7 linked regions of the Homo sapiens genome follow. The protein of the gene in region 3 purifies or fractionates together with the protein of the main gene of each other region. This does not show direct contact. Each region holds a gene or a part of one and is shown on either strand. Other genes may lie near its edges. The genes, in order: MCCC1, DICER1, LECT2, CSPG4, KIAA0232, ITIH2 and VWA5B2.

Evidence for each region.
Region 1: the proteins of LECT2 (region 3) and MCCC1 purify together in Homo sapiens (co-immunoprecipitation; one large-scale study listed by IntAct). This does not show direct contact.
Region 2: the proteins of LECT2 (region 3) and DICER1 purify together in Homo sapiens (affinity purification with mass spectrometry; one large-scale study listed by BioGRID and IntAct). This does not show direct contact.
Region 4: the proteins of LECT2 (region 3) and CSPG4 purify together in Homo sapiens (affinity purification with mass spectrometry; one large-scale study listed by BioGRID and IntAct). This does not show direct contact.
Region 5: the proteins of LECT2 (region 3) and KIAA0232 purify together in Homo sapiens (affinity purification with mass spectrometry; one large-scale study listed by BioGRID and IntAct). This does not show direct contact.
Region 6: the proteins of LECT2 (region 3) and ITIH2 purify together in Homo sapiens (affinity purification with mass spectrometry; one large-scale study listed by BioGRID and IntAct). This does not show direct contact.
Region 7: the proteins of LECT2 (region 3) and VWA5B2 purify together in Homo sapiens (co-immunoprecipitation; one large-scale study listed by IntAct). This does not show direct contact.

What each region holds. Positions count from the first base shown.
Region 1 is NC_000003.12:183,071,521-183,075,741, reverse strand, and holds part of MCCC1 (methylcrotonoyl-CoA carboxylase subunit alpha, mitochondrial isoform 1 precursor), read left to right. Parts: intron 1-3,254; coding exon 3,255-3,376; intron 3,377-4,221.
Region 2 is NC_000014.9:95,147,270-95,151,490, forward strand, and holds part of DICER1 (endoribonuclease Dicer), read right to left. Parts: intron 1-4,221. UniProt on the Homo sapiens protein: Double-stranded RNA (dsRNA) endoribonuclease playing a central role in short dsRNA-mediated post-transcriptional gene silencing.
Region 3 is NC_000005.10:135,945,865-135,949,375, forward strand, and holds the end of LECT2 (leukocyte cell-derived chemotaxin-2 precursor), read right to left. Parts: intron 1,634-3,511; coding exon 1,467-1,633; 3' UTR 1,040-1,466; downstream 1-1,039. UniProt on the Homo sapiens protein: Has a neutrophil chemotactic activity. Also a positive regulator of chondrocyte proliferation. Does not show metalloendopeptidase activity.
Region 4 is NC_000015.10:75,702,636-75,706,856, forward strand, and holds part of CSPG4 (chondroitin sulfate proteoglycan 4 precursor), read right to left. Parts: intron 1-4,221. UniProt on the Homo sapiens protein: Proteoglycan playing a role in cell proliferation and migration which stimulates endothelial cells motility during microvascular morphogenesis. May also inhibit neurite outgrowth and growth cone collapse during axon regeneration.
Region 5 is NC_000004.12:6,876,727-6,880,947, forward strand, and holds part of KIAA0232 (uncharacterized protein KIAA0232), read left to right. Parts: coding exon 1-31; intron 32-4,060; coding exon 4,061-4,221.
Region 6 is NC_000010.11:7,730,095-7,734,315, reverse strand, and holds part of ITIH2 (inter-alpha-trypsin inhibitor heavy chain H2 precursor), read right to left. Parts: coding exon 4,183-4,221; intron 2,506-4,182; coding exon 2,320-2,505; intron 1,979-2,319; coding exon 1,839-1,978; intron 1-1,838. UniProt on the Homo sapiens protein: May act as a carrier of hyaluronan in serum or as a binding protein between hyaluronan and other matrix protein, including those on cell surfaces in tissues to regulate the localization, synthesis and degradation of hyaluronan which are essential to cells undergoing biological processes.
Region 7 is NC_000003.12:184,227,655-184,232,580, reverse strand, and holds the start of VWA5B2 (von Willebrand factor A domain-containing protein 5B2), read right to left. Parts: upstream 2,997-4,926; 5' UTR 2,868-2,996; exon of another isoform or gene 2,785-2,867; intron 2,229-2,784; exon of another isoform or gene 2,202-2,228; 5' UTR 2,053-2,201; coding exon 1,914-2,052; intron 1,835-1,913; coding exon 1,664-1,834; intron 1-1,663.

The sequences.
Region 1 (4,221 bases), on a different chromosome or scaffold from region 3:
GTGAAACCCTGTCTCTACTAAAAATACAAAAAGATTAGCAGGGCGTGGTGGCAGGCACCTGTAGTCCCAGCTACTTGGGAGGCTGAGGCAGGAGAATGGCGTGAACCTGGGAAGCAGAGGTTGCAATGAGATGAGATCATGCCACTGCACTCTAGCCTGGGTGACAGAGCAAGACTCTGTCTCAAAAAAAAAAAAAGTGGGCAAAGGACATGAACAGGCACTTCTCAAAAGAAGACATACATGTGACCAACAAACATGAAAAAAAGCTCAATATCACTGATCATTAGAGAAACGCAAATCAAAACCACAATGAGACACCATCTCACACCAGTCAGAATGGCTATTACTAAGAAGTCAAAAAAATAACAGATGTCAGGAGGTTGTGGAGAAAAGGGAACGCTTATACACTGTTGGTAGGAGTGTAAATTAGTTCAACCATTGTGGAAAGCAGCAGGGTGATTCCTCAAAGAGCTAAAAGCAAAACTGCCATTCAACCCAGCAATCCCATTACTGGTTGATACCCAGAGGAATATAAATTATTCTACCATAAAGACACATGTGCATGTATGTTCATTGCATCATTCACAATAGCAAAGTCATTGAATCAGCCTAAATGCCCATCAGTGACAGATTGGATGAAGAAAAGGTGGTACATATACACCACGGAATACTATGCAGCCATAATAAAGCATAAGATCACATCTTTTGCGGGAACATGGATGGAGCTGGAAGCTATTATCCTTAGCAAACTCCCACAGGAACAGAAAACCAAATACTGCATGTTCTCACTTAGAAGTGGGAGCTGAATGATAAGAACTTAAGAACACAAAGAAGGAAACAAAAGACACTGGGGTCTACCTGAGTGGGGAAGGTGGGAGGGAGAGGAGCAGAAAAGATAACTATTGAATACTGGGCTTAATACCTGGGTGACGAACTCTGTACAACAAACCCCTGTGACATGTATTCACCTGTGTAATCTTCACATGCACCCCAAACCTAAAATAAAAGTTAATAAAATAAAATTGAACTTTGGTTTAAAAGATATAAAACTCTAAACTGGCTGCAACATATGAGTATCCAGCATTTTATCTGTATCTGGCATTGCATTGTTTCCTGTCACTAGGATGTGGGTTTTTCTATTCGTATGAGTTTCCCAGATATGTGAAGCTTACCCCTTTAATTTTGAAATGTTCTTTGAGTGTAACTATTTTGAAACAGGATTGGCTGAACCTTTGTGTTTTTACATTGTTTTGGTCATAATTATAATACTCGCTCACATTTTAGAAGAACAAATCCCCTCAGGGCTACTGATGTTGGAGAGGGTGTGGCTTCATCACTCATTAAATCATCCAAGTCTTCTCTGCCTTTTGCCTCCTTCTGTTTCTTCCCTTTTTGCTGTCAGCGTGTTTACTTTTAGAAATCTTGCTGTCCTTCAGTTACTGAATTTCCTCTTCTGTGGGCTAAAATCCCAGTAAGTATGTTTGTTAAAATTCTGAGTACACTGGAAGTAACTAGGCTGAAGTCTGAGGGATGCCCTTTTCACTGAAAGTACACGTACAGTTGTCCCCTTTATCCACGGTTTTGCTTTGAGTGGTTTCAGTTACCTGCAGTCTACTATGGTGTGAAAATATTAAATGGAAAATTCCAGAAATCAACAATTGATAAGTTTCAAATTGCACGCCATTCTGAGTCACACAGTGAGATCTTGCACAGTCTGCTTTGTCCCTCCCAGGATGTGAATCGTCCCTTTGTCCAGTGTCTCCACGCTGTCTCCACTCCCCATCTGTTAGTCACTCAGGAGCCATCTAGGTTATCAAATTGACTGTCATGGTACCACCATGCTTGTGTTCAAGTCACCCTTATTTTATTTAAATCATGGCCCCAAAATGCAAGAGCAATGATGGTGGCAATTCACTTATGCTAAAGAGAAGCCATGAAATGCTTCTTTTAAGTGAAAAGGTGAAAATTCTCAAGGAAAGAAAAAAATATGTATGTTGAGGTTTCTTGGTTCTTGGTAAGGACCAAGTTTCTATCTGTGAAATTGTGAAGAAGGAAAAACAAATTCATGTCATTTTCCTGTTGCACCTCAAACTGCAAAACTTATGGCCACAGGGCATGGCAAGTACTTAGTTAAGATGGGAAAGGCATTACATTTGTGATTGGAAGACATGAACAGAAGCGTGGTCAAATTGGTATCAGTCCAGTTCTGTAGTATTCATAGTTTCAGGCATCCACTAGGGATCTTGGATAAGGGGACACTCCTGTAGACTTTAATACATGACTTTCATTTGCTTCTTAGCTTTTTTTCTGGAAAGATGACATTGATGACCTGAAGATAAGTGAGGTATTTATTGAGCTAGTGTTCTGTTTGGGGCTTTTGGATGCCATGATTTCAATTCTAGGCCAGTTTTACACAGAGACAGAATAGACAAATTCCCCTTACCACTCTGAAGCCCTTTACTTCTTGACATTCTACCCTAATTGCAATATTATTTTAAATTTAAGTATATAGAAACTTCTGTACCATATGATCCAGCAATTCCACTTTTGGTATACAGCTAGAAGAATTTAAAGCAGGGACTCAAAACAGATACTTGTATACCAATACTTGTTGTTCACAGCAGCAGTATTCACAATGTGTAGAAATAACACAATGTCCATCAAGAGATTAATGGATAAACAAAATGTGTACAAACTGGATATTATTCAACCTTAAAAACAAATGGAATTTTGATACATGTTACATGAATGAACCTTGAAAACATTATGCTAGGTGAAATAAGCCAAACTCAGACAAATTATTATACGCTTCCACTTACATGAGGTACTTTGGCTAGAGAAATTCATAAACAGAAAGTAAAATCCTGGTTACTAGGGACTAAGGAAAGGGAGGGAATGGAGAATTATGTTTGGAGATTAAAACATCCTGAGGATGGATGGTGATGACAGTTGCCCAACATTGTGAGTGTACTTAATGCCACTGAATTACATACTTGCAAGTAACTAAAATGGTCAGTGTTTTGCTATGTATATATTATCACAATAAAAAGAAATATAGATTCATCTGGTTTAGGTAAGCCTTCAGAGCTTTCATATGAATATTTCAGATATTTCTTTGGAAACAGAGTTTAATAGAGACCATACTATTACCAGTGTAGGGAGAGGCCTCCCAGAGGAAGACAGCTTCACCTGCATTAAGGTGTTGCCAGTTGAGCACTGATGAGTAAATTTTTTATTTTATTTCTCATTTCTAGGCTATCCATCCAGGATGCGGTTTTCTCTCAGAAAACATGGAATTTGCTGAACTTTGTAAGCAAGAAGGAATTATTTTTATAGGCCCTCCTCCATCTGCAATTAGAGACATGGGTATAAAGAGGTATGAGTTTATATCTTTTAAAATATAACTGTATGAAGGTCAGTTGAAATAGTTTGGGCCAGGCATGTGGCTATGCCTGTAATACCAGTGTTTTGGGAGACTGAGGCAGGAGGATAGCTTGAGGCCAGGAATTCAAGACCAGCCTGGGCAACTTAGTGAGACCTTGTCTCTCAAAATTCTTTTTTTTAAATCAGCCAGGCCTGGGCACAGTGGCTCACACCTGTAATCCCAGCACTTTGGGAGGCCAAGGTGGGAGGATCACTTGAGCCCAGAAGTTTAAGACCAGCCTGGGCAACACAGGGAGACCCTGTCTCTACAAAATTTTTTAAAAATTCCAGGCATGGTGGCACGTGCCTGTGGGTCCAGCATCTTGGGAGGCTGAGGTGGGAGGATTGCTTGAGCCCAGGAGATCAAGGCTGCAGTGAGCTGTGATCACACCATCATACTTCAGTCTGGGTGACAGAGTAAGACCCCATCTCAAAAAAAAAAAAAAAAATTCAGCTGGGTATGGTGACACACACCTGTAGTCCCAGCTGCTTAGGAGGCTGAGGCAGAAGGATCACTTGAGCTCAGAAGTTTAAGGCTGTAGTGAAGTATAATTGCACCACTGCACTCTGGCATGGGCAACATTGTGAGACCCTGTCTCTAAAAAAAAAAAAGAAATAGTTTGTTTTACCTATAATATTTTAATTCTACCCTTCTGTTGTCATAGGCATAAGTTATTTATCTGTGACATAGAGAAATTCTATTGAGTTACAGAAAATACTTAATGTTTCTAATCAATATATTAGTATTTTGGGATTAAAAAATAGGGTGAGATGAGCTACCACATGAAATGAGGGAAA
Region 2 (4,221 bases), on a different chromosome or scaffold from region 3:
AACCTGGGAAACATGGCAAAACCCCATCTCTACTAAAAATATAAAAATTAGCCAGGTGTGGTGGCATGTGCCTGTAGTCCCAACTCCTCAGGAGGCTGAGGCGGAAGAATCACCTGAGCCTGGGGGGCTGCAGTGAGCCATGATCACACCACTGCACTCCAGAGTAAGACCCTGTCTCTAGAATGAATGAATTAATGAGTAAAAACCTCCCCCGTTAAGGCACAAAATGTGGTAACATTTACCTGAATATCTGAGTGGGAAAAAACACACACAAACTGTTTTTCCTTTGTTCTCACACACCACATAAAATTTCTGTGACCAAATGTGTGGGGTTTCTCCCCAACAACAAGCAAGCCATCAATTCTGCAGCGGACACCAGCTGGGTGTCTTCTATTAATGACTGAATTCCAACATTATCTACCTGGAGATAGCATCAGATCCCACAGGTTGAGGGCTCCAGTCCTCAAGACCTCCCCCACCCTTCCGTGTCAATTGCAAACCTCAGGTTATTTTTTGCCCGTGCTCCCGACCAATCAGTTAACTGGGGTTCCCACAACGCCCTCCTGGGATTTAACTTGCTAGACCAGCTCACAGTCCTTGGGGAAAAACTTACTTATGTTTACCAGTTTATTATAAAGGATATTACAGGCTGGGTGCAGTGGCACACGCCTGTAATCCTAGCACTTTGGAAGGCCAAGATGGGAGGATCGCTTGAGGCCAGCAGTTCGAGACCGGCCTGGTCAACACAGCGAGAGTCCATCTCAATAAAAATAAGTAAATTAATTAGGTAAAGGATATTACAAAGATCCAGATGAAGACATGCACAGGGTTAGGTATGGAGAAGGGGTATAGAGCTTCCAAGCCCTCCCAGAGCAAACTGCCCTCCAGGAACCTCCATGTGTTCAACTATCCAGAAGCTTTCCAAACTCTGTCCTTCAGGGTTTTTATGAAGACTCATTACCTGGGCATGATTAACCTTCAGCCCCTCTTCCCTCCCCAGAGGTTGGAGGGTGGGTCTGAGTCCAAACCTCTAATCATGCCTTAGTCTTCCCAGTAACCAGCCCCCATTTTGAAGCTACCAGGAGCTACCGGCCACCAGTCGATCATTAGCATACAAAAACACATCACTTTGGAGATTCTAAGGATTTCAAGCCTTGTATGCCTAAGAATAGGGTAGAGGACAGACCAAATATATATTTTACAGTATCATAGTACCTACAATTTAAACCACAAATTCATTAGCCTTCTTTTCATGCATTACTGTATCTGAACCAAATAAATTTCTGGGTTTCTCTAAATCTCTAACATAAATATGTTATGTTTAGATTTCAATATAATCATGCCTAAAATTAGATTGGTCCAAAATTGAAGTGGAACACAGGTCAAATACCATCTTAACAAATTCCACCCATCAAAGATCTCCATATAAGAAGTGTCTCCAGGCTGCAAGCCAAAGGTCCGCTTACTTCTTGGAGTACTTCTCAGAAAGATGACATTTCAACACATCAAAACAGCACAGATACCCACCCCTCCCCTTCAAGTTACCTATAATGACATTTGTCCTACAGTTTTGTTTCAAGAGACATAAATACTTAACACATCACTAGCTTTCAAGGTGAGTTTTAAGGTTCATATTTGATTCCAAGTTTCTGTACTTTACTCTTTTTTTTTATTTTTTATTTGGAGACAGGGTCTCACTCTGTCTATTTACAGGCACCATCAGAGCACATTACAGCCTTGAACTCCTGGGCTCAAGTGATCCTGCCATCTCAGCCTCCTGAGCAGCTGAGACTACAGGCACATACTTTACTCTTAACACTGTGCAACGAGTGCTAGAATTTTATTCAATTCACGACTACCCTCTACCTTTACACCAAGAAAGAGCATCCATTGGGAAAAAGGAGCCACAATTTTCTCTTTGTCAAGCTGTTTTAAGATATATAACATGAATACTTAAATACTAAAGGGAGGTCAATCCAGAGACAAAATGAACATAAGAGACTACTGAGTTAAGATGGATGTTTATTGAGACAGGAAAGCAAATATATTAAAAGGTCCAGGCAAGAGTGTGACGCACTACATCATCATAGCTTCTGCGCAACATCTCATGTTATCTGCCTTTCCCGTAACACCAAAACAAGTGTGTACCAACAGAGTTCGCCACCTCTCACGAACCCCACCCCACAACTTTCCCTAAAAACCTCTATCACTTTAGTCCCCTCCCCTCTCATTTAGCACACATGGGCTAGCTACAACACCCAAATCATCACGGGCTTCATTATATTACTGCCCCATATATTAGCTGTTATTGCCATCTCCCTCAAGAGTATTAAGATCTTTGAAAGATAATCTCATACTATACTCACATTCATATTACATAGTTCATGATTTGTTTGATTTTCACGTTACTGTAAATTTGTAATGACTAGGTAGTTTGGAATGTAGGAAAGTAAATATCCATGAATAATTTTTTATTAATTAATTCGATGTTGAGAATAAGCTTTATTGATCTTAACTATTGAATTAAAGCAGCTTTTTATAGGTCAAATATAAAACTCAAATTAGACACTTTTAAATTAAAAGACTTTAAACAACCCAAATTATTTCAACAAGCTTAACATCCTCGATCTTGGCACCCAAGTCCAAAAGAATAATTCGAGGCTAACTAGAAACTGTCAAAGCTAGAGAGGTATCAGTTAGTGCAATGATAATTTTGGTATCATCTGACTATACCCATCCTAGTTTTCTCAGTTAACTTCCAACCACTACAAAATTCTCTTCCATATTAATGCAAACTAATCTGACTCCAACCTTGAAGATGTTTCAGAAACAATTTTAAAGTTCTTAAAGTTACAGGTGCAACTGGGAAAACCCAACTCAAGACAGTCTTATTTCTCAACTTAGTTTCTCATTTTACAAACTGTATTTTGTAGGCCGGGCACGGTGGCTCATGCCTGCAATCCCAGCACTTTGGGAGGCAGAGACAGGTGAATCACTTGAGGTCAGGAGTTCGAGACCAGCTTGGCTAACATGGTGAAACCCCGTCTCCACTTAAAAAATACAAAAATTAGCTCAATATAGTGGCTTGCACCTGTAGTCCCAGCTACTCAGGAGGCTGACACAGGAGAATCGCTTGAACCCAGGAGCCAGAGGTTGCAGTAAGCTAAGATCACGCCACTGCACCCCAGCCTGAGAGACAGAGCAAGACTCAGCATTAACAACAACAAAAAAGAAATCGTATTTTGTTAGGTTTAAAATTCAGGCGAAACTCTACTGAATGTCAACTAATAAATGTAGAAGGAATGACAGAAAAGTCACCATTTTTAACCATCACATTAGTGATTGAAGCAAGGATCATTAATGGATGCTAAAACCATTGGGTGAAGGTTACTAAAGAATATTTACATAGCCTGAAAGCTTTTCTGCAGATTACCTACTAATTACAAATGAAAACTAGTATTTTTATTCAGTGGAAAAACCAGATAGATACCCCTTTAATCCAAGTGACAAAGCTAAGATCACCAGTATTAGGACAAACTGACAACACATACCTAATGTAGTTTTCCTACTGAAAGTACAAAACTTGAATCTATTTTTGCCGGGGGAAAGAGGGGAACAGAGTCTCGCTCTGTTGCCCAGACTGGAGTGCAGTGGCACAATTATAGCTCACTGCTACCTCAAACTCTTAGGTTCTAGAGATCCTCCTGCCTTGGCCTCCTAAAGTGCTGAGATTACAGGAGTGAGCCACTGTGCCCAGCTGAAACCTGAATCTAATCATAAGGAAACATAAAACCTAACTTGAGGTTTATTTTACAAAACACTTGGCTTTATACACTGAATTGAAGTATGATTTCAAGGATGATGTGTTAATTCATGCATAGCAGATGAAGAATGTGTTATTTAGGGAAAGTTAAGAGACGTTTAAGGCACTGTTACATTTGGTATCACTACTACAGAGACCAACTAAGATAGCTGAACCAGTATAGATAATCCTCCTCGAAAACTTGTCTGTAAAATATTGTTCTCAAGCCCTCTTTTCCTTCATCCTCCATTATATTACTAGACCATACATTTCAATATTGATAATTTGGGGGCTCACAATATAATCTAATCACATTAAGACTATTGCATGTTAAAATTTTCTCTAATACACGTATTTAAAAGAAAAATATTACATTAATTTTATCAAATGCTAGTTATGTACCATGAGAGTTTAAGAAA
Region 3 (3,511 bases):
GCTCGCCTTCGTATATGATTTTGTTATATAAAAAGGAAATTGTATTTTAACTGTTTTAATGTTATAAAAAGAATTATCATCCATTATGTAATCTTCTGGACTTTTTAAAACTTAAAATTATATTGCCATGATTCATTCAGGTCATTATGTTTAGCTGAAGTTCATTTATTGTGACTGCTGTTGACTATTACATTCTATAACTTTGAGATTATTTATTGGATTTCACTGTTGATGGGCATTTAGGTCACTGAAGGTTTTGCTATGAAAAATAGTGATATCATGAACATTCTCATACATATGCCCTGATACACAAATGCAGCCATTTCTCTAACAATAAACTTCAGTTAATTATGTTTTCCTCTAACAATCTACACATAAGAATATAATCATTCTGCTGGCATTTTCTGCATTCCGAACAAATTTAAGCAGAAATTCATGAAGTTTCCAGAATGATTAGTTCAATGTATTCATTTCTTACCAACTGGCTAAACTCTAAGGAGCCAGAATTATTTCTGGTCCTTTGGACATTTGTATGGTCTTGTTTCCTCATAGTACCTGTTGTCAATATAACTAAGACAGAATAACATAGATATAATACAATGATGTGTAGAAATAAGTAGCTGTAATATGCATATGGCTAGATGAAGTTGACAGGCCCAATTCCATGAGACACTTCAGATAAAGGTAGGCCTCATTCTCACTCTAGTCCTTCCTGTAGTGCAGCCTCACTGTTTTCTTGGGATATGTTTTCTTGGACTGCCATCATTCATAATCATGTGGGTGAGTGGATGGAAATACCAGCAAATCCTTTATTATCCATGAAAGCAGCTCTCTCTCCAACCAATATGATAAACCTAAGGATATTGCTGAGAGTCTACTACCTAAACTCAACTTATTCATTGAATATGTATTAAATGTATACTAAATCTAGCATTATAAACCACTCACTGTTCTTGTACCATAGAAACACTTTCAGGCTTTTTCTTATTTTCAAGCAGAAAGGTTGCTAGTTTTAGAGGTGTCAAAAATGCAGCCTGGCCCAGCGTAAGTTCTCTTGTTTATTTATCTTAGATCTTCGGGACTGAGAAATCTAAAAAATAAAACCACTCAGATTCCATAGGTGACAGATCAAAGAGCCCGAAGCAACCAGTTCACATGAACATCAGAGTGACAATGAGTTAAAATCAAAATGTTTTCTTTCTTGCATTTATCATGTTTCTATTTAAACTCAAATTTCCTTTTTTTAATTAAAAAATTTTTGTGGGTACATAGGTGTATTTGTTTATGAGGTACGTGAGATGTTTTGATACAGGCATGCAATGTGTAATAATCATGTCATGGAAAATGGGGTATCCATCCCTTCATGCATTTTTCCTTTGTGAACACAAATTTCTTGAAGAGAAGGGTATGCATCCAGGTTTTTAAGATGACTTTTTATTTTGAAGATCTGACCATTGGCCTTCGATTTACAGGTATGCAGTAGGGTCACTCGAGTCACAGTTTTCAATGTGCACATGCGATTGTATGCCAGGATAAACTTTCTGCAAGGGCAATAGAGTTCCAAGTTTTTCTCCCTTCTTAATAGGACCTTTATACTTAATTGGCTTAATGTAGAACATTTTGACACAAAAACCTAAAAGAAAATAAGTATAATTATTTATCTGGGCTTCAGTAATCTTGAATCTGAAATTAAAAAAATAACAAATGGACAAAAAATAAAAAAAAGAATGTTGAATGAACTCAGGAGAGGAATAGATGAAAATGACAAAATGATATTAAAAAGGAAGACTAAATTACAAGATGCCAAAGGAAGAATAGATTCAAATGAAACGCTAATAAAGGCATTGAAGAATAATAGCAGGAAAATACTAGCTAGTTAGAAAAGGTGAGCCCTGAACAATGTCAACTCCAAAACATATTCTGATAGAATGATTGGACTTTAGAGATAAAGAAAAATAGAAATAACTGGAACAAAAATACAAACTTTGCTAAATATCAAAAGAATTAAAAAGGCAAAGACCCAAGTAGAGAAATAGAGTACAATATAATAATTATACAATAAAATGGTGTTGGGTACAAATACAGGAGTCATGTCTATAAATGTGAATGGCCTTATCTTGCCTATTAAAAGATGTCCCATTGGGTTGAAAAGCAAACCCCAATTGAATGCTGTATGGAATAAAACACAGCGATTGAAAAGGCTGAAAGTGAAGAGCTGGACAAAGATTTGCCAAGCACATGGACAAAGATTTGCCAAGCAATAAGAAAGCAAGGGCTATTGTCCTGTTACCAGAAGAGTGGAAATCAGGCCAAAAGGCATTGAAACAAGACGAAGATAATGTAAGAGGGTAAATGCCACAAGTCACAATGAAGATATAACAGTTACAACTATCCATGCACTAAATAGCACAAGTCATCTATATAAAGCAGACACTACAAGAGATGCCAGGAAACATAGATAGAAACCCACCAATAATAGGAGACTTTGATACACTAGTGGCACTGCAAACCGGTCAAGTGAGCATAAAAATAAGGCTGTAAAATTATGCTGTCCAATATGGTAGCCACTAGCCACATGTGGTTATGCAGCACTTGAAAGGTAGTTAATATGAATTGAGATGTGCTTTAATGGTAAAATACACAGTGGATTTTGAAGACTTAGTATTTAAAAATGTAAAATATCTCAATAATTTTTGTATTACATATTGATATAATACTTTGAAAATATTGAGTTAAATAAAATACTAAAATACCATGTTTTTTTACTTCAACATGGCTACTAGAAAATTTAAAATAATAATAATAATAATTATTATTATTATTTTTTTGAGACGGAGTCTTGCTGTGTCACCCAGGCTGGAGTGCAGTGGCGCGATCTCGGCTCACTGCAGGCTCCGCCTCCCGGGTTCACGCCATTCTCCTGCCTCAGCCTCCTGAGTAGCAGGGACTACAGGCGCCCGCCACCACATCTGGCTAATTTTTTGTATTTTTTAGTAGAGACGGGGTTTCACCGTGTTAGCCAGGATGGTCTCGATCTCCTGACCTCGTGATCCATCCACCTCGGCCTCCCAAAGTGCTGGGATTACAGGCACGAGCCACCGTGCCCAGCCGAAAATTTAAAATTATATATATGACTTCTGTTATATTTCTATTGGATAGTTCTGCTGTAGAAGAGCTAAAACTCCATCAGGTAGGTTTTACGAATAAATATTAAACAAAAGATGTGCAAGACCTCTACACTGAAAACTACAACAACCATTAATATAACAGTGAAGGAAGACCTAAGTAAGTGGAGGACATAATATGTTCATTGATTGGAGGACTCACTACTTTAAAAATATTAGTTCTCAATTTGATCTGTATATTTACTGCAGATTCAGTCAAAGCCCCAGCAGGATTTTTGGTGGAAATTAGCAAACAGATTCTGTAATTTATTTGGAAATGCAAATAACCAAGAATTGCCAAGGCAGTCTGAAAGAAGAAGAAAGTCAATTCCAATTATGCATTCTGG
Region 4 (4,221 bases), on a different chromosome or scaffold from region 3:
CTGCCCTCCAGAGCCCCAGGGCTCAGAGGCAGGGGACTGGACACTATGGCCTGGGAGGGCTCGAGGGACTGCCAGAGCCAGAGACTGCTTTTCTGGGCCTGTGGTGACAGAGTCTGGTGCTTGTTTTTAAAGAAAATAGAATCCGAGCCCCTATTTATAGCCGGAGGCCACAGCCACAGACAGAAGACGGATGGGGTTTGAGGCTTACAGGCCCCTGCTCTAGCATGGACTGGGAGGTGGGGCCATTCCCAGGCCCCCCTGCCCGCCTTTGTCAACCCCCAAGGAAGTGCCTGTGGGATCCTGACACTCCCTGGGACAGGATGTAGCCTGCACTTTGGGGCACGGGAGGACCTGGTGAGGGGAGCGGAACATTTCTCAGGATTGGTCCCTGGGGCCCAGAGTCCCTTGTGGGAATGGGAGGAGGTGAGGGTCTGTTATGTCTACTGAGAAGGCAGAGAGGGCCCTGGGGACGGGTGGGGTGCTGGCGGCAGGGAGCACTTCTGACTGCCGTGGAACCCGGTAAAGGAGAAGGGAAGGAGAACAGAGCAGGACTGGAGAGATGGGCAGACAGACAGAGAGACAGGGTAGGAAAGACAGACAGAAAGAGATGGAGGAACCACAGCCAGGGGTGGGAAAGGACAGAGAGATGGAGAGAGCGGGATGGGGGGATGGACTGAGAGATCGGGGGTGCTCTGCAGCCCGGGTGACCCTGCGCAGGGGCAGACAGAAGCCGTGAGGGGAGACTGAAGTGTGGCTTCCGTCCCATAGAGTCTTCATGGTGCTCCAGGCAGCGTGGTCAGAGTCCGGGTGGAGCCGGTGAGGAGGGAGGAAGCAGGCGTCTCTGTGGCCTCGCCCACCCCCAGCCTCCAGGGTCTAGGGGCTGGAGACCCTCCGTTCCCGGCAGTCTCCACGGGGAAGGCCCAGGCCTGTTGGAGGCAACGCAATGCGGTGGGGCAGAGCCCAGATTGACCTTGTCACCAAGATCCCCAAGGGCTGTCTTGGGCACGGCCGGGACCTTGAGGGACAGGTCTGGTCTCTGGCTTGTTATGGAGTGAGTTCCCTAGGCCTGGAGGGCTCACAAGCTAAGGCTATGGCCTGGACTCACACCTGCTGCCAGCCTCTACGCAGACCCCTCCCTTGGCTGCGCTTGTAGGGGCTGTGGGGTAACCGTAGCCTGGGGCATGTGTCATGGAGCCACAAGCAGTGACTCAGACAGTTAAAAAAGGAGCAGCTCTGAGTGGTGACTCAATTGGCTCTGGAGGGGCTGGGTGGGTCTGGCTGGTACAAGATGGGGTGGTCTGGGTTTATTTTTGGCAGGGCGGGGCTGGGGCCAGGGGGTGGAAGATGGGAGCCGGGGGTGGAGAGGAGCCGCTGCTCTCATCCCGGGGGGAGCCCCAGGGCTCCATGCCAACTTAGGAAAGTGGCTTTCCAATGCCAGGGAGTCCTGGCAGGCTGGGCTGCTTCTCAGCCCCATTCCAGGCCTAGCCTGCCTTGCTGCTTGGCCCAGGACAAGCAGCTGGCTCTCTCTAGATAGAGGCAGAGGCCCCTGTCCTGTTCCCAAGAGGCTCAAGCTCAGAATTTAGAGCTGACCTAGGAGACTGAAGATTCCACCCAGAGGCCCAGATAGGGCCAGGGGTCTCCCCAAGGCCACATAGCAGGGCCAGGTAGCCCAAGGGCTGTGGCACCATCAGCCAGCTGGCTCAGGCCTCTACAATATCTCGCTGGCCCCAGGGCTGTCCACGGTTGGAGGGACAGCCCCCGTCTGAGTACCCACCCCTGGAGGGGCTCAGCCAGGCTCCAGATGGGTGGCCAGAAGCACACGGGCCCCAGATGCCCAGAGATGGAACCTTGGCCAGGGGCAGCCACCTGGATTCCATTAAAACATGTGGGTGGGGGGCCTGGCCGGGCCCTGTCCAGGGGTCTGTGGAGAAGAGTCACCTCTACGTGGGTGAAGGCAGTGGGGGCCTGCACAATGGGATCTTGCCCTGAGGGCTCAGGCACAGGCCTGCCCTTGTCCGGGGTCCCTCCAGTGTCCCTGCCCCGAGCTGTGCACCCCACTCTGCAGTCACCTCAGTCACCTCCCCACACCTCCCCCTACTCTGAGCTCACATACACCCATACCACTGAGGGGTCCTAGCAGCCCAGAGCGGAGAGGGCTGTCCCCTCCCTCAGTCCGGATTTCTGCTCCTCGTGATGCAGCCACCACTGCTTATATCATGAGTGGTGGTAACAGCCCCATGGTGACTCTGGCAGGTGAGCTGTCCCACGTCCCTGGGCCCTGGCCTCCAGCCCCCACCTCCAGAGAGGGACTCGCGAGGGGTTGGTAGAGAGCAGGGAAAAGACAGGCTTCTAGGGTCCCCGTCCCATAAAAGGTCTTGGGGCCTGCTCATTCTCTTCTCCTCACTCACCTGCTCTGGGGACAGGGGGTTCCTGCTGTGCCCCGGCCCAGTGAGCCCCATCCTAGGGGCTGTTAGGCTTGGGAGAAACAGGCCCTGGGGAGGGCCAGGCAGGGGCTGTCCCCACTTCTTCTAGCACTGAGAGAGGGGTGTGGGCCTCAGCCCAGTTAGCCACAGAGATGCAGACCCCCACCCCCTCCCACCTTCTGAAGGGTCCTGGGCTGGCAGGCAGCCGCTGGCTGATACCCTCTCCAGAGCCCACCTCTCCTTTTCCATGTCACTTAGTCCCACACAGACTCACGGGGCCACCTCCTCTAGGCCTTTGCCTCGGAATCTTCCTTAAACACTCCTAAGCAGAAGTCCCCATGTTGCCGGGCCACTCCACCCTGGGAAGAAGATGCTAATAGCAGAGTGACTGCAGCTTCAGGAGCAGATGTCCACCGAGCATTGATTCCAGGCAAAGTGTCTTGCTTAATCCTTACAACACGTAAGAGGTTGGAATTATTTATCCCCATTTTAGAGAGGAGAAAACTGAGGCTCAGAAAGACAGAGTCACTTGCCCAAGGTCATGCATAGAGCGTCAGGGCTGGAATTCAACCTGAGCTCTCTAATGCCGTGTTTCACCACCATGTGCCTGGCCTCCTGCTTCCCTGTGTGGGTTCCCACAGCTCAGGACTCAGAGGAGGGAGAGATGGGGCCTGGGTCAGGGCTGAGGGGCAGGGGAGGGGCTCCCTCTCAGCTGCTCGCAGACTCCCAAAAAGGGTGATTTGCTCCTCCTTGACCAGGGTGGGAAGTAAAAGTGTGTGTGTGTATCTGTGTCTGTATGTGTCTGTGTGCATATGTGTGTGTCTGTGCCTGTGTGTATATGTCTGTGTGCGTGTGTGTGTGCGTATGTGTGTCTGTGTGCATGTGTCTGTGTCTGTATGTCTGTGTGTATCTATGTCTGTGTGTGCCTGTGTGCGTATGTCTGTGTCTCTGTGTGTGTGTGGCTAGGCCTCAGGCCTGCCTGGCTGGACTCTAGCTGCAGGAGAGCTGGTCTGGCCCCAGCAACTGTGCACAGGGAAGGGGCAGGGAGAAGCGGGTGTCGTGGGAATCAGTGTCCTGGTCCCACTGGTATTTATAGCTGCCCCTTCCTGAAATGTGGGTGGGGGAAGGGGCTGCTCTTAGGTGGGAACGGAAGTTCGTCTCCTCTCCCCAGCCCCCTCTGTCTCCCCAGAGAGTGGACTGGCCCAGGCCAGAGGGCCTGCCCTGGCGGGGGAACGAGGCACTGTGTCCTGATTTTGGGGGTTTTCCCTGGGGCTGCTGGCTCGGGGCAGGACACTCTCCTTGCCTACTGAGCAATACTGCGTGTGTGTGAGTGTGTATGTGTGAGTGTATGTATGTGTGTGTGAATGTGTATGTGTGTGTGTGAGTGTGTGTGTGCACACACACGCATGTGCACTTACTGGGTGTCAGGCTGAAGAAGGTCATGAACCGGGGACAGAGGCCAGGTGAGGGTAGGGGAAGAAAGGCCTGTAACCCCACAGAGATGGAGGGCAGGGCCCCAGGAGAGGGGCCATCCAGGTCATGGGTCTCAGAGCAATCTGTGGTTAGAACAGGCTCCTGGGGGTGGCGATACTGGAGCTGAGCCTTGGAGGATGGGGGAAAAGGGAAGGCCTGTTGCATGGAGCAGCTTGAGTAGAAGTGGAAAGGTGCCAGCGGTTGTGGATTATTATCTGATGGCCTAGTTCTATCTGATCAGCCAGTCCGTGGGACACAGGATCACCTTGACCAGGGAGGATGATATATTTGGGGAGAGAAGGACATAGCACAGCACAGTTGAGCA
Region 5 (4,221 bases), on a different chromosome or scaffold from region 3:
TAATGAAGAGCGCCTGTTAGATTTTAATAGGGTAAGTGGACTGTCCTCCTCCTCGTCATTAACTTACAAACAGCCACCACCTCCAGTTGTCACTGTAGTCAAAAACCTGGGAGTCATGTGAGTGGACCCCACCTCTCCCAGGAACCAGCCAGGCCTGTGGGTGCAGACTTCCTGTTCTCTGGCCTTTGTTCTGAGTCTGCATTCTCCCCCGCTTCCAAACCCCCTTGACTGTTGACTGCCAGTGCTTCCTGAAGAATCCCCAGCTCTCTCCCCAGTCTTGGCTCTACACTACTGCCCGAGGGCATTGCATTACAAATGCAGAGCTGACCCTGTTGCTCCTTGGGTGGGCACACTTTTCATCTTTTTTTTTTTTGTTTACCTAATAAGTGGGAGACCTAGCCTTGTCCTCTTTGAAAGTGCACCCTGAGGCAGCCTTGCCAGTGTGCTTGTTGCCGCTGTCCCGGCTTCTGCAGAACGATCCCGCCCTTTCCGTGTCCTCCTGCACTCTGTGCACGACTCTTCTTGCTGTAGCCAGAGCATGTACTTGCGTTCCGTTTCTGCATGTCTGCCTCTTCCACAAGCCTGTGGGCACCACGAAGGCGGGAGCGGGGCCTCCGCCTGGTTTAGTCTCGTCTTAGACCTTCCCCGGTTAAGAGGCAGGCAGGCAAATGAACCTAAGGAAAATTCTTTTTATTTGGTGTGAATTGTCAGTGTATTAGGGTTCTCCAGAGGGACAGAACTAATGGAATAGGTATATATATACACAAAGGGGAGTTTATTAAGTATTAACTCACACGATCACAAGGTCCCACAATAGGCCATCTGCAAGCTGAGGAGGAAGGAGAGCCAGTCCCAGTCCCAGTCCCAAAACTGAAGAACTTGGAGTCCGATGTTCGAGGGCAGGAAGCATCCAGCATGGGAGAAGATGTAGGCTGGGAGGCTAGGCCAGTCTAGTCTTTTCACATTTTTCTGCCTGCTTTATATTCTAGCCACGCTGGCAGCTGACTAGATGGTGCCCACCCAGATGAAGGGTGGGTCTGCCTTTCCCAGCCCACTGGATCAAATGTTAATCTCCTTTGGCAACACCCCCACAGACACACCCAGGATCAGTACTTTGCATCCTTTAATCCAATCAAGTTGACACTCAGTATTAACCATAACAAGTCCACCCCTTGTCAATTTGAACCCATACACATCTCCTGAAATTATATGTAATCTTCAAATAAAGACAATAAGGTCATAATTATACCTAACATAATACAGCTATGCTTCATACAACCGGAAAAGCACCAATCCCAAACCCAAGTACTATTACATAGAGTTAACAATACTTAAATGCTGATATGAAGTCAATAAATCTTATGTCAGCCGGGCGCTGTGGCTCACGCTTGTAATCCCATCATTTTGGAAGGCCAAGGTGGGCAGATCACCTGAGGTCAGGAGTTCAAGACCAGCCTGGCCAACATGGCGAAACCCCATCTCTACTAAAAATACAAAAATTAGCCGGGCGTGATGGTGCACCCCTGTAATCCCAGCTACTTGGGAGGCTGAAGCTGGAGAATTGCTTGAACCCAGGAGGTAGAGATTGCAGTGAGCTGAGATCGCACCACTGCACTCCAGCCTGGGTGACAGAGCAAAACTCCATCATTCATTCATACATACATACATACATACATACATACATACATAAATATATACATACATAAATCTTGTGTCACATGATAAAGGACAAAAAATAAAATGAGATTTTCTTAGTACAAGTGTATACATGCACAAACGTGTTTTTAACGAAGGAGGAAATACTCCTCAAGACAATTACAGTCCTGGTTTCTGCACCTGGTCACATGGTCGTAGCTGGTATTGATGACTACCTTCTTCTACTACCCATTCTGTATTCCCTTTGCCTTCAGCAAGCACCTCAGCAGGTTGTGGTTTTTTCCCGGTGGAGTGACCTAAACCTTCATTCCTAAAGAGTCTGAGCCATTTGTATCCTGTCTGGACTGGGCTGTTGTAGTTTCCCGTTAACTTGAATCACACGGCATGTGATCAAGTTGACACTCAGTATTAACCATCTGTCAGTGTCCATTCAAGTCCTGTGAGAACTGTCTGCCCAAGCACCTGTAGCATCATCGTCCACGTCCTGCTGCCCACTGACCTGTCCGGCTCCACACATGAAGGCAGATGTTTGAGGCCCCCACCAGCTCTCTCCTCAGTGACTAGTTCACATCATCCCTCCAGCCTCAAACCCCAAACTGAGACATATTCCCCAGTCCTCTCTCTCATCTTCCACACACAGTCTGCCTGCCAGTCCTGACCGTTCCCCGCTGTCAGCCACTTCGCATCTCCCACTTCTCCTCCTCTCCATCATTACCACTTTGTTCAAGCCACTGTCCCTGCTCCTGAACAGCTGCCATGGTCTTTTCATTGTCCTTCCTGCTTTCGTCATCCTTTCCAGCCTTCTCTCCACACAGCAGACAGAATGACCTCACGAGCAGTATCTTGTTCAGTCCTCACAACGACCCTGTGAGGTAGGTACTGTTGTCATGCCTGTTCTGCAAAATAGGAAAGTGAAGCACAAAAACATCAGGCGCCGTGTATCCGAGGCCAGAGAGCCACAGCTTCAGTGTGGACCTGAACTCTGAACCTCAGCAGTCTGCCTCTAGGACCCATACTGCTAACCATGATGTCACTTTGCTGTTGCATTTGAGACAGATCCAAACTCCCCGCCACGCCTCTACAGCCCTGTATGTTTTGCCCCCGTCTGCCTTTGACCTCATCTGTCTCTGCTCTCCCCTTACTCTGTGTGGCTTTTCTGTGCTTCTGCCTCAGGGGTTCTCAACCAGGGGCAATGCTGCCATTTGGAAATGAGGTGGGAGTGCTGCTAGTTACTATGGCAGGGTGAGGGGAGCTTTGTAATGACTGTGACTGAGGAGGGGCCACCACTGCATCTCATGTCCTGGGGTCCAGAGATGCTGACCATCTGGTGTAGGGGAGACAGTCCGACACCACAGAGTGTTGGCACCTCTGCATGGCTGGCTTCTCAGCTGAGCGGGCCTCTTCTCCAAAGAACTCCCTTCCCAACACACCCATCTGCAGTGCCCCCCCTCACCATCTGTACTGTGTCACTGCAAACTCCCTTCCCAACACACAGGTCTGCAGTGTCCCCTCACCATCTGTACTGTGTCACTGCAAACTCCCTTCCCAACACACCCGTCTGCAGTGCCCCCTCACCATCTGTACTGTGTCACTGCAAACTCCCTTCCCAACACACAGGTCTGTAGTGTCGCCTCACCATCTGTACTGTGTCACTGCAAACTCCCTTCCCAACACAGAGGTCTGCAGTGTCCCCTCACCATCTGTACTGTGTCACTGCAAACTCCCTTCCCAACACACAGGTCTGTAGTGTCGCCTCACCATCTGTACTGTGTCACTGCAAACTCCCTTCCCAACACAGAGGTCTGCAGTGTCCCCTCACCATCTGTACTGTGTCACTGCAAACTCCCTTCCCAACACAGAGGTCTGCAGTGTCCCCTCACCATCTGTACTGTGTCACTGCAAACTCCCTTCCCAACACACAGGTCTGTAGTGTCGCCTCACCATCTGTACTGTGTCACTGCAAACTCCCTTCCCAACACACCCGTCTGCAGTGCCCCCCTCACCATCGGTACTGTGTCACTGCAACTGGCACATGTTGGTTTGCTCGTTCATCTCCCCAGCGAGCCTGGCATGCGCCTTCCACTGCTGGAGTCCCTGTGCCCAGTAAAGTTCCTGGTGCATAGCAGGTACTCAAAGACTTTGAAAATGAAATAATTCTTTATCCTACCCTAACATGGCTAACATTTTGTCCAAGTGACTGAACATGTGGAATTAGGATTTTGGATCCTTCATGGATCAGAGAAGAGAGGCGGTTTTGCTCTGAAACAGTAAAACTCTGCATGTTTGTAACTCCACAGGAAAACACTGATGATTTATTATTTCTTCTTTGTATATAGATAGAGTATCTCACCCTTTTGGGGAAAAAAAAGTCTTTTTGATGTGTTGAAAATTGTTTTAATCTTAGGTGTCTTCTGTTTATGAAGCAAGATGTACAGGAGAGAGAGATTCTGGAGCAAAGTCAGATGGCTTCCGCGGAAAGATGTGCTCCAGCGCCAGCTCCACCTCGGAAGAGACAGGCTCAGAAGGCGGAGGCGAGTGGGTGGGCCCTAGTGAAGAGGAGCTCTT
Region 6 (4,221 bases), on a different chromosome or scaffold from region 3:
ACACACGGTCCCCCATATACACGGCCTTCCCCACTATCAACATCCATCCCACATCAGAGTGGTGCATTTGTTACAATGGAAGAAGCTGACACATCATTATCACGCAGAGTCCACAGTTAACGTGGCTGACCCTTGGTGTTGTACATTCTATGGGTTTGGTTAAATGCATAATGACAGGTGTCCACCATTGGAGTATCATATAGGGTATTTTCACTGCCATAAAAATGCTCTGTGCTCCACCTACTCACGTATCTCCCACTCCCCAACCTTTAGCAACTGCTGATCTTTTTATAGGAATTGTTTTAAAATCAATATTTAACTTCTGCAACAATTTGCTATATACCTGTAAATACATCTAGTGTGCTTCTGTCAGAGAGGGAGCTATTTCTCGTTTACTTCACAGTCATAGTTTACAGCCTTGCGTATTTCTTCTAACCTTATTGACATCAGGGATTTTCTCTATGAGTTCAGTCATACAACTGCATTTCATTTTCCCAGCCTCATTTAGACCCTGTTCCACCTTCCTGAGAATCCTGTCTTATAGACAGAATGAGGCTTGGGAATGGGAACTTTTATCAAACACCTCTGTGTAATTTTGATGCAGGTGGTCAACCATCCATTGCTCTGGGGATATAGTTTTCATGTTGGAGAGTTGAGATGCAGCTCAGCTGAGAAGTCAGAGGGGCCATGGATGAGCATGGGGGAGCCCTTCCTTAGGGAACATCATAATCACATAATCATTAAATTCTCTTTGGACAAGAAGCCGTTTTCAAGAGTAAATGCAAATAAATTACTGATACATGAAGCAACCAGAGGGGACATAGATGAGCATAGGGGAGCCCTTCCTTAGGGAACACCATAATCGTTAATAATCATCAATTTCTCTTTGGACAAGAAGCCATTTTCAAGAGTAAATGCAGGGCTGGGTGCAGTGGCTCATGCCTGTAATCCCAGCACATTAGGAAGCCGAGGCAGGCGGGTCATGAGGTCAGGAGATCGAGACAGTAAATGCAAATACATGCCTGATACATGAAGCAACATGGATGAATCTCACCAACATCATATTGAGTGAAAGAAGCCAGGAACAGAGGAATACAGATTGCATGATTATGTGAAATTTAGGATCAGGCAAAACTGATGATCACAGACATTGAAAGAGTGGTTACAGTGGAGGAGGGGGGTGGGTGTTGAGGGAGAACAAGGGAACCTACATCTGGATCTGGGTGGTGATTACACGGATGATAGATATAAAAATCCATTGAATGGTGCACTTAAAATTAATGCATTTTGGCCGGGTGCGGTGGCTCATGCCTGTAATCCCAGTACTTTGGGAGGCCCACTCGGGTGGATCACGAGGTCAGGAGACCGAGACCATCCTGGCTAACATGGTGAAACCCCGTCTCTACTAAAATACAAAAAAATTAGCTGGGCGTGGTGGTGGGCACCAGTAATCCCAGCTACTCAGGAGGCTGAGGCAGGAGAATGGTGTGAACCCGGGAGGCGGAGCTTGCAGTGAGCTGAGATGGCGTCACTGCACTCCAGCCTGGGAGACAGAGCGAGACTCTGCCTCAAAAAAAATAAAAATAAATAAATAAAATAAAAATTAAAAAATTAATGCATTTTGCATACTTTACTGTATGTTATACCTCAATAAAGAAGAAAAAGAGTGAACCCAGCTTTCTCTGAAGTGTTCAGAACTAGTGGAAGGTAATAATCCAAGCCTGTGCTAATGTGCTGTCTTTCTTGCTTCCAAACTCTTTTTGTGTATGACTTCATATATTCACGGTGGACATTTCAGTTTTGCAGATCTCGTGGTGTGGGTACTCTTCTCTTCTTACCGTTCAGCTAGCAGTTGGTTGATGGTTAGATAGGCCCACAGTTTCCTGGTGAAATCGGGATCTGCATGCTTGTCTTTCGATAGAAAATCCTGCAAGTCGTCCATCTGGGCCAGGGTCTCCAAGACTAACTGCGTGTTAGCCTAGATGATGGAAGGTTCAGTTGAGAGACACTGGGTAACAGAATTATAGTTCATTGATTCACATTTTTAGTACCTGCTGCGAATGAATGGGAATAAAAAAGAAATGGAAGGCAAAGCCTACGGAGGAAGGAAATGCATTCCTGTGCTTGGGATTGGGCTTGGGTGAAAAGGTCAGGATTTATGGAATAGCTGGGAAGATGGCAGAGATATTCTCATGCCTTCTCCATCACTGATTGCTTCTGTTCTACACCCATGATTCCAGGCAGGCAGAGCTGACATTCAAGAGGGACTGTATCTAGGGGGTCAGTTAGTAGATAGAATAAATGGATAAGTGGAAGTACCGAAGTCGCCGTGATAACGCTCTCTATTTGATCCAATTTAGCAGGGTCAAATTTTCCTGCCACCACAATCTCTGAGCCTCCAAAGTAGTTATGGAAATTGTTTTGAGTGACGTCCGTGACTGATGTATGGGGATAGTTGAACTGAACATTCCGGAGCAATGGAGTGGAGACCTGGTTGTAGAATTTCTACAATTCACAGAGAGAGAGAGAGAAATTATGTTCCTACTGCTTTGTAGATCTAAAGCATTTTATTTTATTTATTTATTTATTTTGAGACGATGTCTCACTCTGTTGCCCAGGCTGGAGTGCAGTGGTGGGATCTCGTCTCACTGCAATCTCCGGCTCCTGGGTTCAAGCAATTATCCCACCTCAGCCCCACAAGTAGCTGGGATTACGGGCACCCGCCACCAAGCCCGGCTAATTTTTGTATTTTTAGTAGAGACGGGTTTTCACCATCTTGGCCAGGCTGGTCTTGAACTTCTGTCTTGTGATCTGCCTGCCTGGGCCTCCCAAAGTGCTGGGATTACAGGGATTACGCCCAGCTGATCTAAAACATTTTACTCTGAGATTCTTCAAAGAATCAGCAGATACCTCTTAATTTATTCACACAGGACGTTTGGGACAAGGGAAAATGCTCGTAATTATCAGATTAAAAACAGAGAGAAGACAAAGACTTGTTGAGAACATTACCTTTGGTTTAAGAGCCTGGCATTTTTTTCCCTTTCTGTTACGGTCAGCGTGAAAAACTCTTGGACAAACTTATGATAAAAGTCAGCAGGAGGTCGGGCATGGTGGCTTGACCTGTAATCCCAGCACTTTGGGAGGCCAAGGCAGGCGGATCACCTGAGTTCAGGAGTTTGAGACCAGCCTCGCCAACATGGTAAACCCTGTCTCTTCTAAAAATACAAAAATTAGCCGGGCCTGGTGGCACATGCCTGTAATCCTGGCTACTCAGGAGACTGAGGTGCGAGAATCGCCTGAACCCAGGAGGCGGAGGTTGCAGTGAGCCGAGATCGCAGCACTGCACTCCTGAACCACTGCACCACACCATTGCACTGCCATTGAACGTACTTGTCACCCAGCCTGGGTGACAAAGCAAGACTCTGTCTCAAAAAATAATAGTAATAATTAAATTTTTACAAAAGTCAGCTGGGTTAATAGTCCCCAAATCAGAATCTTATCTCTTACTTGTTCCCAAATTTAAATACGATGCCTGGTACTGACAAAGAGCAGGGAAAAACATGTTCTTTCCCTACATCATTTTCTCATCTATTTAATCAAAACAAACAAGTAGTTTGTGTCTTTTCAATATATGTATTTTAATTAAAAAAATTATCTGTTGAACAGATGGATCTCACTATGTTGCCCAAGCTGGCCTTAAACCTCTGGGCTCGAGTGATCCTCCCACCTTGGCCTCCAAAGAGCTGGGATTACAGGCATGAGCCACCACACTCAGCCTGTATCTTAATACTTAAGAAAATTTACACTGTGAAAAATTGATACCAAGATGCCAATGCACGTTAAAGAGAAAACGGTTGGCCATGATGATAAGAAGACCAATTGCTGGTGGGGCAGGAGAGCTACAAGGAGCTTTGATGACGCTCAGAAGGCCTTTTTGTTCAGGGGGTAGGACAGCTGTTCCCAACACCCATCTGCCTCATACCTCACTGTTACTGCAGAAATATGAGGGTGGGGGGAAACATGTGAGAAAGGAACTGGGCACTTCCCTGATCCTTGCAACCAAATATGGCTGAGATCATGACCATTTTGAGTTAAGTTCAGTTATGCATCATACCTGCATCAGATATGGGTAGTTAAATGATTTCCAGTGAAGAATAAAAAAAGAACAGAAGAAAATGTTACCTTAAGCTGGGAAGACGTGTCCTGGTTTCCATAAATCCT
Region 7 (4,926 bases), on a different chromosome or scaffold from region 3:
AATGACCAGCCATGTACAGTGGCAGCTGTGTACACCACCGACGTGGTCTGGCCCCAGCCCACGTTCACAGCCCTACTGTACCTCACTTCCTCACAATGACCAATTGTTCATCCTTTCAATAAATACTTGCTGAATAACTGAAGGGAAGAAAAAGATGGAAGGAAAGAAAGAAAGGGGCTTCCATCCCAGCCAACCGACACAGTGGAGACAGCACAGCATCAAGTTTTAAATATCAGCTCGGTGACCTCTAATTGAGTCCTTTGGCAGCTCTCTTGTTCTGAGGAGCCTGTTTCCTCATCCATAAAGTGGGGATCATAATAACTCTGTGATTGTGGTGAGGAACAAATGAGGCAATGTATGCAAAGCACCCAACATATAAGTCAGTGACCCCTGCTATGACTTTCATCCCCCATAACAGGAGGAAGGGGGATTATCCCCCTTCCATCCCCCATAACAGGAAGAAGCCTGCATTACCCACTACTTGGGATTCAAATGAGGTGATACTAGCGATTGTAAACTGTAAATCACTATAAACATGAGATATTTTATTGTCATTACCCACTGTAACCTACTTATAAGCATTTGCTTATACTGTTGCCCCTACCTTCCACTTAACTGAGTCCTACCCTTTCTTGCAGTCAAATGCTGGCTCTACCTCCTTCTGGAACATTCCTGGGGCCTCAGCCCAGAGCTCACTCTAGCCTCTAACCACAAGCCCCTAACGTGCTGGGCTTATGCCAGCTCTCAACACCACTGGATTCTGTTCCTCTTCTTCTTACCTGGATTGCAAATCCCCTGGGCAGGAATCAAAGCCATGTATGAATGAATCAATGAAAGAACCAGGTGCAAGCACAGCACACAGCACAGGGCTGGGCTTCTGTCCCTTCCCCGGGCACTCGCTGGGCCTCATAGTGCCAGGTTCTGTGTGAGGTGCTGGGATTTGGAGATGCTCCAGCGGGGAGACAGACAGGCAGATCTGTGACAATGACTCCCCCTGTAAGTGCCATAACGAGGGGGCACAAAAGGCTGGGGAGCCAGGAAACAGTGCAGCTATTTGTGGGAGAGTCAGGGAGGGTTTCCCTAGGAATGACGTTTAGTGGATCTTAAAGGACAAGTAGGAATTTGCTCAATAGAAGATGGAAAGACAGAGCAGAGAGTTGGGAAAGGACCTGTCAGTCAGTGTGGCCAGCGGCAGCGGTACCTGGTGTATGGGGTCGCTGGGAGAGGGATGGAATGGGGTGAGAGCGAGGGCCTTGGCTGCTAGGCACAGGAGTCTACACTTGATTCACTGGCCCACGCGGGGCCGGATTGAGGTGTGCAGCCTAAAATAGTAAGGGGCCGGAGGGGACCACCAGGGGAGAAGGCTCCCTTTGCAGCCCCCTAGAGAGACCGGTCTCCTGGGCTGTAAGGGTTGCTGGCGCCCCCGCAAGCCCTGTGCTGCCTGCTGTGTCTGTCTCCCAGGCTGTGAACCTCCGGGCCATGTTCTCCCAGCACCTGGCGCAGGTCAGGTGCCCAGCCCACGACTGCTAAATACCAGGATGAGCCAATGAATGCACAAGGCAGTGCCCGGAGGAAGGCGGGGGACGGGCGGAGGCCGAGCGGATGCGGGAGCCTGAGCTGCGCCCGGCTTTCAGGAGCGCGGGTGCGGGCGCGCGGAACTCACCCTGCGCGCAGCGGCGGGGCGTCGGGGTCCCCAGCCCCGGGCCCAGAGCGCGGCAGCAGGCGGCCTGCGAGCGGCGCCGGCTCTGCAGCTGGAAGGAGACGCGCCGTCCGGCGGCCTCGGCCTCGAAGCCGGACACCACCTCGGCCTCGGCCAGCGGGTACACGAACACGCCTGGGGAGGGCGGCGGGAGGCGGCGTCGGACCCTGCCCGGCGCACCCCCCGCCGCGCCCGCGCCCCACCCGGGCCTCACCGTCCACCGGCTGCGGCTGCGGGTTGCGGTAGGTGAGCCGGGCCCGCACGCTGAGGCAGGGGCCGTTGGCGCAGGCCCGGACCCAGGAGTCCGTGAGCGGCAGCGGCGTCCAGCTGGAGGGGCAGTACAGGCCGGGCATGGCGCCGGGAGGCCGGCCCTGCGGGAACGGGCCGGGGAAGCTGGGCGCAGGGTGACGGGACGCCCACCCCGCGCTCCAGAGGCCAGCGCGAGAGTCTCACTCCAGCACCCGGACGGGGCCTGCCGGGGCGCGAGGCCGAGCGGGAGCTCCTGAGGGCGACAGGTGGCGGGGGAGATAAGGGGGCGGCAGGCGTGGTGGCGAGGAGGGCATCCTCACGCGTTACCTGGGCAGCCGGGCCGCGGAGGGTTAATGATTAACGCGCGCTTCGGCGCCCAGCAGTCCCGCCGCGGCTCCCCCGGGGGTGGGGGCGGTCACAGCTGTTCCACCGCCCACTCCCAACCTCGCAGCCACCCCCGTACCTGCCGGCCCCCCGGGGCCCCCCGCGGCCGCCAGCTGTCGGAAGCGGCGCGGGTGGAGATGGAAGATGCTCCGGGAAGGCGGAGGTTTAAAGGGCCCGAATCCCCCCGGAGGCCCCCGGCCCTGCGAGGGATCGCGGGGGCAGGGTGGATGGGGCGCCGAAAGGGCCTTGGTCTTTCTCTCCCTGGTGCCTCATCCGACGGGGGTGCTGGCCGGAGTGGAGGGGTTAAGGGTGGGAAGAACGAGCTGGGAAAGCGAAAAGAGGGGGTCTTTGGGAGGCAAGCCCGGGAGAGGTGTCGGGCCAGGGAGAGTCCGTGGGAGCCGCCAGGTTACCGCTCCCTACCCCGGCAGAGCTGATGTGGGAGGAGGGGGCACCTGCAGTGGCCGCGGCCCGCGCAGGGGATGCCGCGGGCTGGCTCTGGGGATCGCCCCGCTCCCTGTGGCAGTCTCAGCCTCACCGTCGCGCCCTCCGCGGAGTTCTAGGTGCCCACGGGATCCGTGTGGGTGGTGCCGCCTCTGCGCTCCGGGTGGCCCTCGGTCCCGGCACCTGCCGGCCGCCAGTTCGTGACTGTGGCTGCAGCGGCTCTGAGTCCCGGCAGGGGCGCGGGCCCTGCCGGCGGTGGTCCCGCCCCCGTTCCGAGAGGCCGCCCCTCCAGCCTGCCCTGGCCACGCCTGCTGCTGCTGCGGCGGGGCTGGCGCTCCCCCCTCCTTCGGGCGCGGTACCGCCTCCGCGCCAGCCGCGGCAGCCCGAGCCAGACTGGGCACCGCAGTGCAGGGACCGCGTCCCCGCCGCCGCACGGATCCCCGTCACTGCAGGACCGAGGCCTCAGAGACCCCACCCTTTCCATTCTTCAGGAATCAGGCGTCCTGCAAGTGCCACCGACACTGCCGCGACCCCAGCTATCCCATTACCACGACGGCATCCCATTCCCCAGCCCACCCCACCCCCTGCCCTGGGTTGCTTCCCATCGCTGCAGAGACCCTCCCTCCTGACTGCAGCGAACCCCCCAGCCCCCCATCACCGTCACCGCAGGACTCTTCCCCCAAGAAGCTGGCCCCTTTCCTTTGCAAAGTGCTCTTCATCACTGCAGAAAACCTCCCCCATCCCTGCAGGTACTTTTAGTTCATGCAGCCACTTCAGTGACCACTCACTCCAAGCAGGGATTCCTCATCACTGCAGCGACCTCCTCCCACCCCCAAGCAGCCGGCCTTGGCATCGCTGCAGTGCCAACCACTTCTGCTGGGGTGGGAGGGTGTGCACAATAGCGCCCTCAGCCTATAACCCCTTGGTCTCTTCAGCTGTGCGGGCCTTGGGAGTGAAGCCTTCTAGCCTGAAGAGCCTTCTTATGGCTGCAGACCGTCCCCTCATAGCAGTGACCCCCACCCATCACCGCAGCCCTGAAGAGAAAACATCTCTGCTTGTCAGGAGGGCCCCTTGTTATTGGCAGACTTTGCATGTGCTTGACAGTGTTATGCTGTCAAAAAGTAGGAAGGTCCGGAAAACCTCTCCCAGGTCCCCCAAGGAAGAGTCTGAGAGCCCTGGGGAAGTGAGAGGAGATGACCATGTTTGGGGATCATCCATGTAAGCTTTTTGGCAGATGCCATACTGAGATTCTGCAGAGAGAGCTTGAGGAGAGCTGGGGATGGAGGACAGCCAGTAGGAAGTGAGCTTTCGAGTCGGGCCCATGGTTCTCACTCCTCCGCATTAACTCTCTCCTTCTGATTTCAATCACTATCACCAGGGATCATCCCCCCGGGGGATCCCTGCCTCCTTGAGTATCTGAGCCCTCAACCCCAACCATCTCCTTTGCTCACCCTACTTAGCATGGTGGAGAGAGCTTGACCTTTTCCCAGGGAATTTCATGGGTGGAAATGCACAGGAATGATACAGGGAGCACAGACACAGTCACACGTACCCAACACACAGGGAGCTCCAGCTGGGTCCTAGCCCTCTTTCCATACTACCTGGGTCATGGTTCCATTCACCTCTCTCCCCCTTTCTCTACTGAGTCTGTTCTCAGCTTCATCCTGAACGAGGGTCCCTCTTTCAGGCCTAGGGAGAAACAGTGGATGGGCTGATGGTCCCTCCAGGTGATCCAGGGCCTCAGGTAGGACCAGCCCTGGCCCTGAGGGCCTCACAAAGGTCCAGGCAGTGGCCACCTTTCCACAAGCACCTTGTGCTCTGCCCCTTCTACAAATGAACCAAGAGCTACATGTAGCCCTTGGACAAACATGAGGTTGCAAATAGCAGTCATTAGGGAGGTCTCCGACACATGGAAATGGAAAAAGAGGTCCTTCTGTTTGGTCCTGAGGAGAGCTTAGATGTAAGACAGCCTCCCAGGAAGATAGCATCCCTATCAGAGACCAGACACACACACTGGCAGAAGTCAAACTTTGCTGCAAAGCTGGACCAACCCTGAGATCTTGCTAGGAAGGTCTCCTTAGCTGAGGCAAATGGAGGGAGAGACAGGTGAATGGCTCCACAAAAAGCATAGGGCACCCTGCAGGATGAGGGGC